Regions from separate parts of the Homo sapiens genome. Here region 1 is linked to region 2. The links come from fine-mapping of genetic effects on gene expression. Tissue or cell type: whole blood. Region 2 holds a variant in brackets; the other region holds the start of a gene. All regions are shown on one strand. Distances are between the middles of the regions.

Region 1 (6,262 bases), 180 kb before region 2:
TGCAGCAGAGTGTTACAGTTGAGATGTGATGGGGAGCAGTGCCTCAAAACAAGGGGGAGTGGGGCCCTCAGAAGCCTCCACCAAAGGCCCAGAGATGGGGCCCGAGGAGAGCTACACCAAGCTGCACCAGTCACAGTGGGACTCTGAGGCTGAACTAAGAAGCCTATGGAACACTGTCCATTGAGCCCAAGTCCATAAGGCTGGCCTTCCCGATGCAACATCCCTGTTCCACACCCTGCCAGTTGACTGTACCCCCACCCCCCAGCTGTGGGCTTCTTTGCTTCTGCCACACTGCCTGGATGGCCCTTCCTCCCTGTCTTTCCACTCCTCACACCCATGCCCCATTTCTTTCCTGTTAATCTGTTGGGTAGGACCCTTGCAACATGCTGCCTTATGTGGTCAATACTTGTACAAGCTCCTTCAAGCACACAGAAATGACTACACAGCCAGACTGTAGAAAACTGGAACTTGGACAAGAATATTGCTCCGATGATCTAACCCTCCTCAGGGGTTGAGGAAGGTGCATGCAGAAGCCACAGGAGTCCTTCAAGGGACCTCTACTTCCCTTGAGTGGCTGTGTCCCATTCTGTTTCTGAGCCCTGTCCTCTGAGGGCCCCAGTGCATCACTACCCCCCCACTTATGGTAGGGCTCACCAGGGGGATAGCCACGCTTGGGCAGCTCCACGCCCCAGGCGTCAGCCACATGGGTCAGAAGCAGGTGTGAGAGGTGGCGGTGTGCATGCTGGTCCCAGTGGACACCATCCCGATGACGGTGCTGTACTGCATGCCGGAAGTGAAAGTGGAGGTCTAGGACATCAAAGCAGTGGTCCCCGGCCAGCGTAGCACTGTAGAAGTTCCCTTCAACCACATCCCGCCGCAGGGAGCCTGCCAGGGGCTGGAGCTAAGTGAGAAAGTGCAGCCTCTAAGAGCCACAGAACGCAGCAGGGTCTGAAAGCAGGGTGTCCTATCTACCAGTCTGCTATCCCATCTCTTGTCCTGATGGGCCTCAGTCACTTGCCTCTGGCAGGAGGAAACCCCCAGTGATACGTTCCCCGAGGGGCATCGCCATGTTCCACACCAGCAGGCAGGAGTCTGGCAATACTTGGTCCATGCGCACAAACACCCGCTCCAGGTTCTCCCGGTAGCTCTCCATTGAGCAGCGACCATATCTGTTGGATAACACACAGGGTGGGCAAGAGCACAAGGGTGGACTGCCTCAGCCGTACTTCCAGCCCCAACCAGTATTCCCCTTTCCCTCGCCCCAACCTGGAGAGATCCCAGAGGCAGGAGTTGATGATCACCAGGTCCGGGGCAGGTCCATATGTCAGCTCTTCCAGAACATCCTCAAGGTACTCGGAGTAAACACGAGTGAGGAAGTAGAAGCGCACAAGGTGGTGGCCAGAGCCCGAGCAGAACTGGCGGACCTCACGATACTGTGTCCCGTTGTGCAGCTCGCCCAGCTGGCCCCCAGCCACCAGCTGGTCCTGTTCAAAGCTCAGCTCCCCCTACCCACCCCCCCCACCCTACTGGTCAGACCCATGCCAGGGAGGAGAACCCTGCCAGGCCAGGGTCTGTGCCCACCCACCACTGACATGGCCACCAAGCTTCCCTCACCTTGGCTTTCAGCTGGGCAGCTGTGAGCAGTGAGTCTTTCTGGAGCAAGAGCACCAGGTCCTTGTACACAGCCCTCTGAACTGGGAGGAGACAGAGATCCCAAGGCTGAGGCAGACCTCAGCCTGCCCCAGCTCCTTCCAAGTCCAGGACCCCATTTTCCCAGGGCTGAGGTGCCCGACACCAGCTCTGTGGTTGACTTAGACGCAGGAGAAAAGATGAGGTTAAAAAGTCCTGGCATTGCCTCTGTTCTGTGTGCCTCCTGGCCAGCAGTATACAGTGACCCAAGATCACCTGGCAGAAATTAAGTCGGCCAAGTCACCCAGGAGACACACTACACAATGCAACGCTTTCGTGATGGAAATTATGGGGAGCTGTCAGGGCGAGAAATGCTGAGCAAGGATGGGCTAAAAAGTGCACAGGTTATTACACCTGTCAGGACTCCTGTGGAAGATGTGTGGGACATAAAAAGAGAAAACCTACTGGACGGAACAGACCAGAAGACAGACAAGAGATGTGAGATGGAAACAAATGGTCCAGACACACTGAACGGGCTGCAAGGTGTGGGACTGGAAGCGTCACCCTAGAAGAGGCACTCACTGGAGTCCCCCAAGATGACCACGAACTTGTTGTGTAGCAGCTGCTGGACTTCCGAGGCCTGGAAGTGGACCATGTCGCTTCGCAGCGGGCGGCGCGGCTCCTCGCTCGACAGACAGAAGACCATGCCGCCACCAGCAACGACAGGCTGCAGGGAGAGGCCACTAAGCAGCGCGATGGTGGGGACTCTGGGCAGGTCAGCCTCAGGGCTAGCCCCTCCGGGGCTGCTCAATGCTAAAGGGAGGAGGTGACGGCAGCAGAGCCATGGTGGCGCCAGCCTTGGTCACACTTGGTACCAGAGGCAGGGGGTCGTCCAGCCAGCAGGCCTCCAGGGCACTGGGGAGCTTCCCGCGCGGCGCCGCCCTGCGCCTCGCCACGTGCCCGCCGCCGTCCCGCGCATGCGCGCACCCGCTCGCGCCAATTACCAAGTCCCGGGGCTCCGCGGTGTTCACCCGCGACCCGGGTATGCCTGCGCACCGCGCGCCTGGCCCGCAGCGGGCTCCTAGCCAAGCCTCATGTTCCCGCGCCCCAGTCGGCCAGTCGGTTCTGCAAAGCTCCCGCCCCGCAGAGACCGTGGGTCCAGGTTAGCCGTCGGTGCACAGCCCAGCGCCCAGCGCTCTCCATGCGAGCGTCGCTGTGGCCCCGACGGCGCCTCAGGCCTCGGCGCCTCGGGCTGCGACGCTCACAGCTTCCACTTCCGTTCACCCATGTCCCGCCCTGAGCGACCCCCAGTGCCCGAAGGGAAAGCAAGGCGATGGAGGTGGCCGCCACAGGGCGCAGGAGCCAGGGCTGGGCCCACTTGGCGGGCGCGAAGCCCAGGTACGGGCTGGGGTCTCGGGGCGGCAGCCAAGTGAGGCTGCCCACAGTGGTGATGGCCGCGGCGGCGGCCTCGCCACGTGACCCGGACGGGCGGAAGCGGAAGTGCCGGCCTGGAGCCCGCTCTAGGTGGGTGTCCCCTCGGTGCTTCCCAGCTGCCGTCTGCACCAGCCATGGACTGCTACACGGCGAACTGGAACCCACTCGGGGACTCTGCCTTTTACCGGTGAGCTGCCCCGCCCTCCCGCCCACGGCCTGGCTTACCCTGCTCGCCCGCCGGCTGGAGTCTCCCGGCGGCGTTCGCCCCTGTCACTACTGGCGCTGGGGTCCGCCCCGCGCCGGCTCTCCCCGAGCGTCTGCCACTTAGCGCACAGCCGCCTTTGGGCAGGGAGCCGGGCCTTCCCCTGCTCCAGAAAAGGAAACTGAGGCAAGCACAGTGGTCACCCCGAAGCCCAGGTCTGTTAGCCTCCGGAAAGATGCTCAGATCTCGCTGAGGGAGGCAGCTCGCGGGTGACAGCGAGTGCCCAGTCTCCTGCCGGAAAGTGCTGCTGAAGTCAGACCACAGGGGCGCTCCGAGGGGGGCGGGATCGCACGGCGGGCGGGGTAACAGTGCTGACCAAGGCTGGGAAAAGGGGGCGAGTCGTCCGTGAATCCCGGAACAGCGGAAGTGGGAACCCCTGGGTTAGGGCAGCCCGCCCATGGGAGTTGTAGAGTCCTAAACCACGGATTTTTCTAAAGTGTAAACCCGTTACATCGTTACCCAGATTAGGATTTTCCCATAGCTTCCCTAATAGGAAAAACTACGAACTTCTCGTGGAACGTCTATCTGTAAGGCAGCCCGTTTGTCTCTCCAACCTCATCTACCGCTCTCCTACCCAAATCTTGCGTTCCAGCTGCGCAGAATTACAAGGCCCTAACCAGTCTGCAGTTTCTGTGGATACTGCCATTTCTCTCTTTATCTCACTGAAGAATTTTGCGCATCCTTCAGGACTTAGTAGTTCAAGGGTTCTTTCTGGAACTGTGCCTGATTCTCCCCCAATAGAATCCTGTGGGCCTCACTGGGCCCAGTGCTAGGGTCTTTTAGGTATGGTCTATTTGTATATTTAGGCGACATTTGTATAGGTTTCTTCTGCTAAACCAGGCTCCTTCAGGGCTGAAAGCATTTTTTTTTTTTTTGACAGAGTCTTCCTCTGTTGCCCAGGCTGGAGTGCAGGGGCACTCGGCTCACTGCAACCTCCGCCTCCCGGGTTCAAGGGATTCTCCTGCCTCAGCCTCCCGAGTGGCTGAGACTGCAGGCCCCTGTCACCACGCCCGGCTAATTTTTGTATTTTTTGCTAGAGGTGAGGTTTCACCATGGTGGCCAGGCTGGTCTTGAACTTCTGACCTTAAGCAATCTATCCACCTTGGCCTCCCAAAGTACTGGGATTACAGGCGTGAACCACTGAGCCCGGCCAAAAGCATGTTTCTTGCTTCTCTTTATCACCAGTGCATATTTAGAACAGTGCTTGCTATGTAATAATTGCCCATTAAAGTTTTTTAAAAATATTTTACTGGGCCGAGCTTTGTGGCATGTTCCTATAGTCCCAGGTACTGGAGAGGCTGAGTTAGGAGGATCACTGGAGCCCAGAAGTTTGAGGGTGTAGGGACCGATGTTAGAACCTGTGAATAACCACTGCACTCCAGCCTGGGCAACATAGCATACTCCCTCTGAAAAATTAAAAATATTATTTTAGGCCAGGCGCAGTGGCTCATGCCTGTAATCCCAGCACTTTGGGAGGCCAAGGTGGGTGAATCACCTGAGGCCAGGAGTTTGAGACCAGCCTAACCAACATGGTCAAACCCTGTCTCTACAAAAATTAGCCAGGCATAATGGCAGGTGCTTGTAATCCCAGCTACTTGGGAGGCTGAGGCAGGAGAATCGCTTGAACCTGGGAGGCGGAGGTTGCAGTGAGCCAAGATAGCGTCATTGCATTCTAGTCCAGGCAACAGAGTGAGACTCCGTCTATATATAGATATATCTATCTATATCTATCTATAGATAGATAGATATAGATAGATATATAGATGTATCTATATATATATAGATACATCTAGATGTATCTATATATAGATAGACATATGGATGTATCTATCTATAGATACATATAGATGTATCTATCTATAGATAGACATATAGATGTATCTATCTATAGATAGACATATAGATGTATCTATCTATAGATAGACATATAGATGTATCTATCGATAGATAGATGTATCTATCGATAGATAGATAGATGTATCTATCGATAGATAGATAGATATATGTTATGGATTGCAAGTAAAGATCACAAAGACATTGCATGGGGGTCTTACTTAAATAGAAGACATTTGTTTGTGCTAATGAAACTGTATACCATTCTCACTGACATATTAAAACTTTTAAATGTAATTTTTGGTACCTAATGTGATATACTTCCTAGATGGACAAGTGCCCTGTGGCAGTTTTTAGAGACCTGTTGCATTTGTTGTTTATTTATAATTCTCTCTTAGAAATATGCCTGTGCAATTGGCCGAGCGTGGTGGCTCACGCCTGTAATCCCAGCACTTTGGGAGGCTGAGGCAGGCAGATCACGAGGTCAAGAGTTCGAGATCAGCCTGGCCAACATGATGAAACCCCGTCTCTACTAGAAATACAAAAATTTGCCGGGCGTGGTGGCACACACCTATAATCCCAGCTACTCGGGAAGCTGAGGCAGGAGAATTGCTTGAACCTGGGAGGCGGAGGTTGCGGTGAGCCAAGATCGCACCACTGTACTCCAGCCTGGGCAACAGAGCAAGACTCCATCTTGGGGAAAAAAAAAAAAGAAAAGAAATATGCCTGTGCAGTATGAAAAAATTGCAAAAACTTCATTAAAAATCCATAAATGCAGTAGGAAATGATTTCAACTTGTTTCTGTGGAGAAGGAATTTCAGCTGACCAAGGTAGCCATGTCATTTAGTATTTACACACCAGCTAGTTGATACAACATTCACTTTTAAAATATCAACTTTACTTGTATTATTTTGAAGATACCTGTTGCCTACCCAGGCTTATTAAATCAAAGAGTACTGCAGACATTGACCTCATTACCACAGAGCTCTTATTTGTCAGATGTAGTCTTTGCTTTGTTGACATGTTAATAAGGTTTTAAAAGAATGTATGTGTTGGGTGCATGCCACAGACACAATCTGAATGATTAATCTACTCTTACCTGTG
Region 2 (8,149 bases):
TTCAGAATCTAGAGACATCTCAGGAGCCAGGGAGCCACATTTCATCTTTCCCTTGAACAGAACACAAGATCAGTGGCTTTGCTTCATTCTCATTACTCTGTATTAGTTAAGCAGTGCCGCCACATCACTGTACAAGCATGTTTTCAGGAAGGCATATGACGCACTCCTGGTAAGATGGGGCAGGAAGCACTTTGGGGCTGGGCCTTCCAACCAGGTGTTCAGGCTGTTCAGGGCCCGCATGCTGCAATGAGAATTTAGCAGTGACTCCTCATGGAGCAGGAATATGATGCGCTTAACGTATTCTTAAGGACTTCTCAGTTTTAATTATAAGTTTAGTAATATAAGCAGAATTTAACATCCAGAATTAAGGCTATTTCCATTTCCATTCTCTAATAAATAAAAACATTTGTTGAAACTTAAATTGCTCTTCTCAATGAAAACTTTAACAAGTCTTTTGTTGCTGACTAAACATATCCATCTCTGAGGCCTAAAGCTTTCTCCTTCTGTGTTGGGCAGCAACCCTGCCCTGCCCTTGTTTGAACTGAAATTGAAAGTGGCTCCTCAGACCAGGCACGGTGGCTCACACCTGTAATCCCAGTACTTTGGGAGGCCAAGGTGGGCGGATCATCTGAGTTCAGGAATTCGAGAGCAGCGTGGCCAACATGGTGAAACCCCATCTCTAATTTTTGTAAAAATACAAAAATTAGCCGGCCGTGATGGCTCATGCTTGTGATCCCAGCTCCTTGGGAAGCTGAGGCAGGAGAATCACTTGAACCCGGGAGCAGAAGGTTGCCGTGAGCCAAGATCGCACCACTGCACTCCAGCCTGGGTGACAGAGCAAGACTCCGTCTCAAAAAAAAAAAGAAAGTGGCTCCTCAGATTTAGGCCACTTCTTATATTTGGCCACTGCCTTGCAGCCTTGTAGTTCACATTGCCACCCTGGTGTTGGTGTGACATGGTGTCCCATCCCTGAAGCTGCCTCCCTTGTTACTCACCTTATTGCTGTCTGAGAAAGGAAATGGGTGATTCACAATCCTTAAATCAAGTGGCTTTCTCTTACCTAGAACTTCTGAATTGAACATACATTTAAACAATGACGTTGAAAAGATGTATAACTGGAGCAATAAAGACTGAAAAAGAAAGCTGCGGCCAGTTGTTAGTTTTTCCGAGGCTCCTTATCTGTTGAGTGGCACCCCAGGCTCCCTTGCTCTTGTCCCCCACTGCCTGTGATAGAGAAGCCTCTTGTTAAACACTGGGAGCTACTTCACCACACTCACAGGCTATTCCCAGAAAGATTTTGCACCTGGGTAAAGCATCCTTGAGAAAATAACCTGTTTTCTTTCCCAGAGTGAACCCAGCTTCATCCCTGGAACCACCACATATGCTTTTCCCCTGGTGGGTTCTTAACCTGTTAACACTGAAATCTACATTGTTAGCTGCTGATAAAGCATCAGAAACATGGTCTAATCTGGGAGTCAGTATTTGGATTTCTTTTTTCTTTCTTTCTTTTTCTTTTTTTTTTTTTTTTGGAGATGGAGTCTTGCTCTGTCACCAAGGCTGGAGTGCAGTGGCGCAATCTTGGCTTGGCTCAGTGCAACCTCCACCTCCCAGGTTCAAGCAATTCTCTTGCCTTAGCCACCCTAGTAGCTGGAATTACAGGAGTGCACCACCACGCCCGGCTAATTTTTGTATTTTAGTAGAGATGGGGTTTCACCATGTTGGCCCCATGCTCTCACACTCTTGACCTTAGATGATCCGCCCACCTTGGCCTCTCAAAGTTCTGGGATTACAGGTGTGAGCTACCACGCCTGGCCTGGATTTCTTATTCTAGTATTTATTAATAATTCAATTTGAGAAGACTACCTAGACTATTTGAGTTTTGTAATCTCTAATTCCTAGCTCTAAAGCTAATCCCTTGTGAATATCTAGACTGGAAATCCCCGTTAAGTACCTGCACATTTTCAGGTTTTGTTAACTGGTTGGAGTCAGACTGGAGAATTTCATTTCTATTCATTTTTGGTTTTCTCTTTCTTTTTCTTTCCTTCCCCACACCCCAGGGCTACCAAGAAAAGAACAAATTCATTGCTGCACAAGGTAAAGTAATGACAACTTTTTTCTGTTAGATTTAACCATGATCACATAATGGGTTTGGTTTTTTTCTCCCAAATGCTGAGTGGATTAACCAGAATGCTGTAGCTTTTCTGTACTTTTTACCACCTGAAAGAATTATAATCCATTATACAGGTTTACAGCTAACAGCCTTCATCTTGATGACTTAGTATCCAGGGATCCATTAAAAGAAGTCTTTTTGTGTATGTATATTAAAAAGACTGGAAAAGGCTGTATACACAAAACACAGTCTAATAAGGCCCTCTGTCCTTGGGGCTAGTTAACCTTAGGTTCCAGCCAGGCTGCTCAGAGTTTGAATTAGGAATCAGTTTCCAGAGAGGATCAGCCACCTCACAGGGTCCAGGCTGGTTCTCCCCCAGCTCATGGGCCTGAGCCTCACCATTATTCACAGATAGTTGGTCTAGGAACCCTCAGATCAGGGACCCAGCACCATGTCCTTTATGTGTTCTACACACATTTCCAGGCCTGCTGTTCTAACAACTGTCTTCACTCTTTGAACCCTAGCAAAAATATCTGGATGTTTGCAGCATTAAAAAGTAATTGAGGCCGGGCAGGGTGGCTCATGCCTGTAATCCTAACACTTTGGGAGGCCAAGACAGGAGGATCGTTTGAGCCCAGGAGTTCAAGATCAGCCTGGGCAACATAGTGAAACCCCGTCTCTACTAAAAATTAGCCAGGCGTGGTGGCACACACCTGTGATCCCAGCTACTTGGGAGGCTGAGGCACAAGAATCACATGAACCCGGGAGCCAGAGGTTGCAGTGAGCTGAGATTGCACTACTGTACTCCAGCCTGGGTGACAGAGTGAGACTTTGTCTCAAGAAAAAGAGTCATTAGGGACTACAAGATTTATAAAAACAAAGTTCTCCTCCCTTTTCTTTTCACTTTTTTAGTCTAATGCCCCTGGGGCAACCATTTTTATCTATTGGCTTCTTATGATAGATGACATCATCTGATCCCCTTACAGAGCACCTCCCCCTCAGTCAGACAGACGTGTACCCACATATCCTCCCCATTCTCCCAGAAGAGTCAAATCACAATTTGGGGTTAAGGTATTTATTATTATTATGAGTTTACAAATATTCACAGCCGAAACACACAGTATTATGTTATTTTTTGTATAGTTTTTTTCCCCCTTCTTTTTTAGTCATTGTGTTTTTTATATACCTACTACTGATTTTCCTCCCAAACTCTTTACCAGAAGTATATATCTTCTCTCAGTACCTTTAGATACATGAGGTTTAATTTTTTTATCTTGGGATCCTTCTAGAATCTTCTTTCTTCAGTTGCATTGTGGATTGGTTGCTCTCTATCCTCTGGCAGAGTTATCATTCTAAGACCAGTACCCTGGGAATTCCGTTAGCCTCTCTGCTGTGTTGGATCTCATTTATTTTCCTCTGTTTGCCTCTCATTTTTGTTTAGAATTTTCTAGTGACTTTCCGAAAAAGGTTATATGGGAGGTAAATTTTGAATTCTAGCCTGAACAAGTCATCCAACCTTTCTGGGGCTGATGACACCCACCTCAGAGCATAATAGGAAGGAGTAAATGCCATATGAAGCACTTAGCTCACTGTCAGGTCCATAATGTAGGTATTCTGTGAGCAGTCATGATTTCTAATTCCCAACTGTAATATCCTTGGGAGACATCATTCGTGTTCTGTTTATATTTTTGACAGCCTTCCACCCAGCCCCATCCTTGTGCAGTGCCTGGCACATACATGGTAGAAACATGGAAAATACTCAATTAGTAACGGGGTGGATGGATACATGGGTTAGATATTTAGCTGGGGACATTTGGGCACAAGCTTCCAAAAGTCAGGAATGGATGTTCCCAGCCTCCCAGCATCTTTCTTCTTGGTGTATATTCTCTTCATTTTTGCTGTTGGCTACTTTAGGACCAAAAGAAGAAACGGTGAATGATTTCTGGCGGATGATCTGGGAACAAAACACAGCCACCATCGTCATGGTTACCAACCTGAAGGAGAGAAAGGAGGTAAGTGGAAAAATTGGATGTGAACAGCAGAAGGATCACTCTGCATATAAGCTCTGAGTTTAAGCCTGGCTGTCTATCCTTTGTGGGTGCTGTACCAGTAGTTCATCCAGAAAGACACAGGCTGAAGTCTATCAGACTTTGCTATGGCCTGGAAGCCCCAGATATGAACCTCAGGTGTGTGCCTAGAGCACATTCCCTGTATTTGGTAGTCAAACAACTCACCCTGGTTCCAGAACAGCCTGAAAGAGACTGACTTGGGCCATCAGCTAAGGAAAAGCCACAGAGGGGTTTTT[T/G]TTGTTGTTGTTTTGTTTTGTTTTGTTTTGTTTTTTTATTGATCATTCTTGGGTGTTTCTCATAGAGGGGGATTTGGCAGGGTCACAGGACAATAGTGGAGGGAAGGTCAGCAGATAAACAAGTGAACAAAGGTCTCTGGTTTTCCTAGGCAGAGGACCCTGCGGCCTTCTGCAGTGTTTGTGTCCCTGGGTACTTGAGATTAGGGAGTGGTGATGACTCTTAACGAGCCTGCTGCCTTCAAGCATCTGTTTAACAAAGCACATCTTGCACCGCCCTTAATCCATTCAACCCTGAGTGGATACAGCACATGTTTCAGAGAGCACAGGGTTGGGGGTAAGGTCACAGATCTACAGGATCCCAAGGCAGAAGATTTTTTCTTAGTATAGAACAAAATGAAAAGTCTCCCATGTCTACTTCTTTCCACACAGACACGGCAACCATCCGATTTCTCAATCTTTTCCCCACCTTTCCCCCCTTTCTATTCCACAAAACCGCCATTGTCATCATGGCCCGTTCTCAATGAGCTGCTGGGCACACCTCCCAGACGGGGTGGTGGCCGGGCAGAGGGGCTCCTCACTTCCCAGTAGGGGCGGCCGGGCAGAGGCGCCCCTCACCTCCCGGACAGGGCGGCTGGCCGGGCGGGGGGCTGATCCCCCCACCTCCCTCCCGGACGGGGTGGCTGGCCGGGCAGAGGGGCTCCTCACTTCCCAGTAGGGGCGGCCGGGCAGAGGCGCCCCTCACCTCCCGGACGGGGCGGCTGGCCGGGCAGGGGGCTGATCCCCCAACCTCCCTCCCGGACAGGGCAGCTGGCCGGGCGGGGGGGCTGACCCCCCCACCTCCCGGACGGGGCGGCTGGCCGGGCAGAGGGGCTCCTCACTTCCCAGTAGGGGCGGCCGGGCAGAGGCGCCCCTCACCTCCTGGACGGGGCGGCTGGCCGGGCGGGGGGCTGATCCCCCAACCTCCCTCCCGGACGGGGCGGCCGGCCGGGCGTGGGGCTGACCCCCCCACCTCCCTCCCGGACGGGGCGGCTGGCCGGGCGGGGGGCTGACCCCCCCACCTCCCTCCCGGACGAGGTGGCTGCCGGGCAGAGACGCTCCTCACTTCCCAGACGGGGTGGCTGCTGGGCGGAGGGGCTCCTCACTTCTCAGACCGGGCGGCTGCTGGGCGGAGGGGCTCCTCACTTCTCAGACGGGGCGGTTGCCAGGCAGAGGGTCTCCTCACTTCTCAGACGGGGCGGCCAGGCAGAGATGCTCCTCACATCCCGGACGGGGCGGCAGGGCAGAGGTGCTCCCCACATCTCAGACGATGGGCGGCCGGGCAGAGACGCTCCTCACTTCCTAGATGGGATGGCGGCCGGGCAGAGACTCTCCTCACTTTCCAGACTGGGCAGCCAGGCAGAGGGGCTCCTCACATCCCAGACGATGGGCGGCCGGGCAGAGACGCTCCTCACTTCCCAGACGGGGTGGCGGCTGGGCAGAGGCTGCAATCTCGGCGCTTTGGGAGGCCAAAGCAGGCTGCTGGGAGGTGGAGGTTGTAGCGAGCCAAGATCACGCCACTGCACTCCAGCCTGGGCACCATTGAGCACTGAGTGAACGAGACTCCGTCTGCAATCCCGGCACCTCGGGAGGCCGAGGCTGGCAGATCACTTGCGGTTAGGAGCTGGAGACCAGCCCGGCCAACACAGCGAAACCCCGTCTCCACCAAAAAAATACGAAAACCAGTCAGGCGTGGCGGCGCGCGCCTGCAATCGCAGGCACTCGGCAGGCTGAGGCAGGAGAATCAGGCAGGGAGGTTGCAGTGAGCCGAGATGGCAGCAGTACCGTCCAGCTTCGGCTCGGCATCGGAGGGAGACCGTGGAAAGAGAGGGAGAGGGAGACCGTGGGGAGAGGGAGAGGGAGAGCTGTTTTGTTTTGTTTTTTGAGACGGAGTCTCGCTCTGTCGCCCAGGCTGAAGGGCAGTGGTGCCATCTCGGCTCACTGCAAGCTCCGCCTCCCGGGTTCACACCATTCTTCTGCCTCAGCCTCCCGAGTACCACCCGCCACCACGCCCAGCTAATTTTTTGTGTTTTTTTTAGTAGAGACGGGGTTTCACTGTGTTAGGCAGGATGGTCTCGATCTCCTGACCTCGTGATCCACCCACCTCGGCCTCCCAAAGTGCTGGGATTATAGGCGTGAGCCACCACGCCCGGCCCACAGAGGAGCTTTTTTCCCCTGGTTTCTCTAGTTCCTTATTTCCCTGGTTTTCTGCCCCACCTGCTGAGGCCTTTGGTATATCCTGGATCAGCAGAGGGAGCTTTATGAACTGAGACCCTGCAAGCCAAAGGGAATTTGAGGCCTTGGCCTAATCCTGGAGGCAGCCTCCTAACTGGGCCTTTTCCTTTTGTGGCTACCAAGTGCATGCCTGGCCTAACCAGCTCTATCACTGGGCCACAGCCAGAGCCAATTCTGGGTCCTGGGGTCGAGCCCCAGCGAGGAATACCTATTTGTTACCGTGTTTCTCAAGGATGGCCCTTGAGTCACCTTGATCCTAGGGTATCGGGTGTCATGATCAACAGCTCCACAGTGGCATGGGAAGACAGTGCTAGGGCTGGGCTTTAGGTTAGTTTCCTCCAACCAAACCTCTTGCTCTTGGAAGCTATCCAAAGCTCAGGCAACAGAAAAAGCTCTAGGCCTCTCATGGCAGGTTTACAGTCTGCATCAGTCTACCCTGGTGGCCCCCTCATAGCAGACTGCTGGTTCGAGGGGTTCAAACAGGCTTTCTCCTAGAGCATGACCTGAAATGTTGTGAAAGTGCAGATTTTGTAGGTAAGATGGCTTCAGATTCGCCCTGAACCAAGGGAGTGTGGGTGGGAAACATTGAGAAGTATGGGGCTAGGGCTGTGTGTAAGTTAGGAGACTGTGCTCAATAGGATGGCGGCTAAGGAACTTGAGAAAAGGGCAAATTTGAATAAGTAAGTGTGCAACTGACTGAGATAGAGAAGAGGTCAAAGGGCCTTCTGGGGGACTTTAATCTGGGCTTTGTGGGCTCTTCCTTCCAGGCCCTTTGCATCTGCCATGGGCAGGAGGTCTAAGGTCAGGGAATGTATGTCTTTTTCTTTCCAGTGCAAGTGCGCCCAGTACTGGCCAGACCAAGGCTGCTGGACCTATGGGAATATTCGGGTGTCTGTAGAGGATGTGACTGTCCTGGTGGACTACACAGTACGGAAGTTCTGCATCCAGCAGGTAGTGTCTCCTCTGTCCTTTCTCAGTTCTTATGTTGGATCTGCTGACCAGTAAGAGGGAACAGGCTGGATCATCCCGCTGTGGTCAGGAGTTGCTGAGTATGCAGTATGTGAATTCTGAAACCAGATATCCGGGCTCAGGGGAACTTGTCTGTCAAAGCTAAAGGAGCAGTATTTTCATGACTGGTGAAAAATTACCTGTTGAGATGAAGTCTGATCATTTAGATATGACCAAGCACTGTGGAAAGGGAGCATGGGGAGGCAGTGCAGTCTCCTAGGTGCTTGACTCACCTTTCTCCTCCTTTCCTACTCCAAAGACTCCTGACATCAAGGATGTGATGGGCCTGCCCCTGGCCCTCCAGGCAACCCTGGAGACCTGAGCAAAGGTCACCTTCAGCCAAGGGGCAGTGTGGTACTGCGAAAAGAGGACTTAGCTGGGAGCACTGCATTTTAGTTCTGACCCTGCCACTGACTAGTTGTGAGACCTTGTGTCTGTGGTTAACTAACTCCCCT

Evidence for each region. PIP is the estimated chance that this variant, and not a neighbour inherited with it, causes the effect.
Region 1: it holds the start of VPS16, and the variant in region 2 is fine-mapped to the expression of VPS16 in whole blood (TOPMed, PIP 0.98).

What each region holds. Positions count from the first base shown.
Region 1 is chr20:2,837,578-2,843,839 of GRCh38, forward strand. VPS16 (VPS16 core subunit of CORVET and HOPS complexes) reads left to right here and starts at 3,168. Exons shown (of 24, transcript NM_022575.4): 1 at 3,168-3,250. The coding sequence starts at 3,198. PCED1A (PC-esterase domain containing 1A) reads right to left here and starts at 3,078. Exons shown (of 8, transcript NM_022760.6): 1 at 2,634-3,078; 2 at 2,212-2,356; 3 at 1,615-1,694; 4 at 1,267-1,505; 5 at 1,019-1,169; 6 at 655-901. The coding sequence starts at 2,335. RefSeq lists enhancers at 604-903, 2,380-2,911, 3,445-3,976.
Region 2 is chr20:3,013,792-3,021,940 of GRCh38, forward strand. PTPRA (protein tyrosine phosphatase receptor type A) reads left to right here. Exons shown (of 24, transcript NM_001385305.1): 12 at 2,058-2,094; 13 at 4,025-4,122; 14 at 7,518-7,637. Among named protein-coding and RNA genes, the nearest start is that of GNRH2, 26 kb to the right of the region's middle. The variant T/G (reference allele first, on the strand shown) is at 4,416.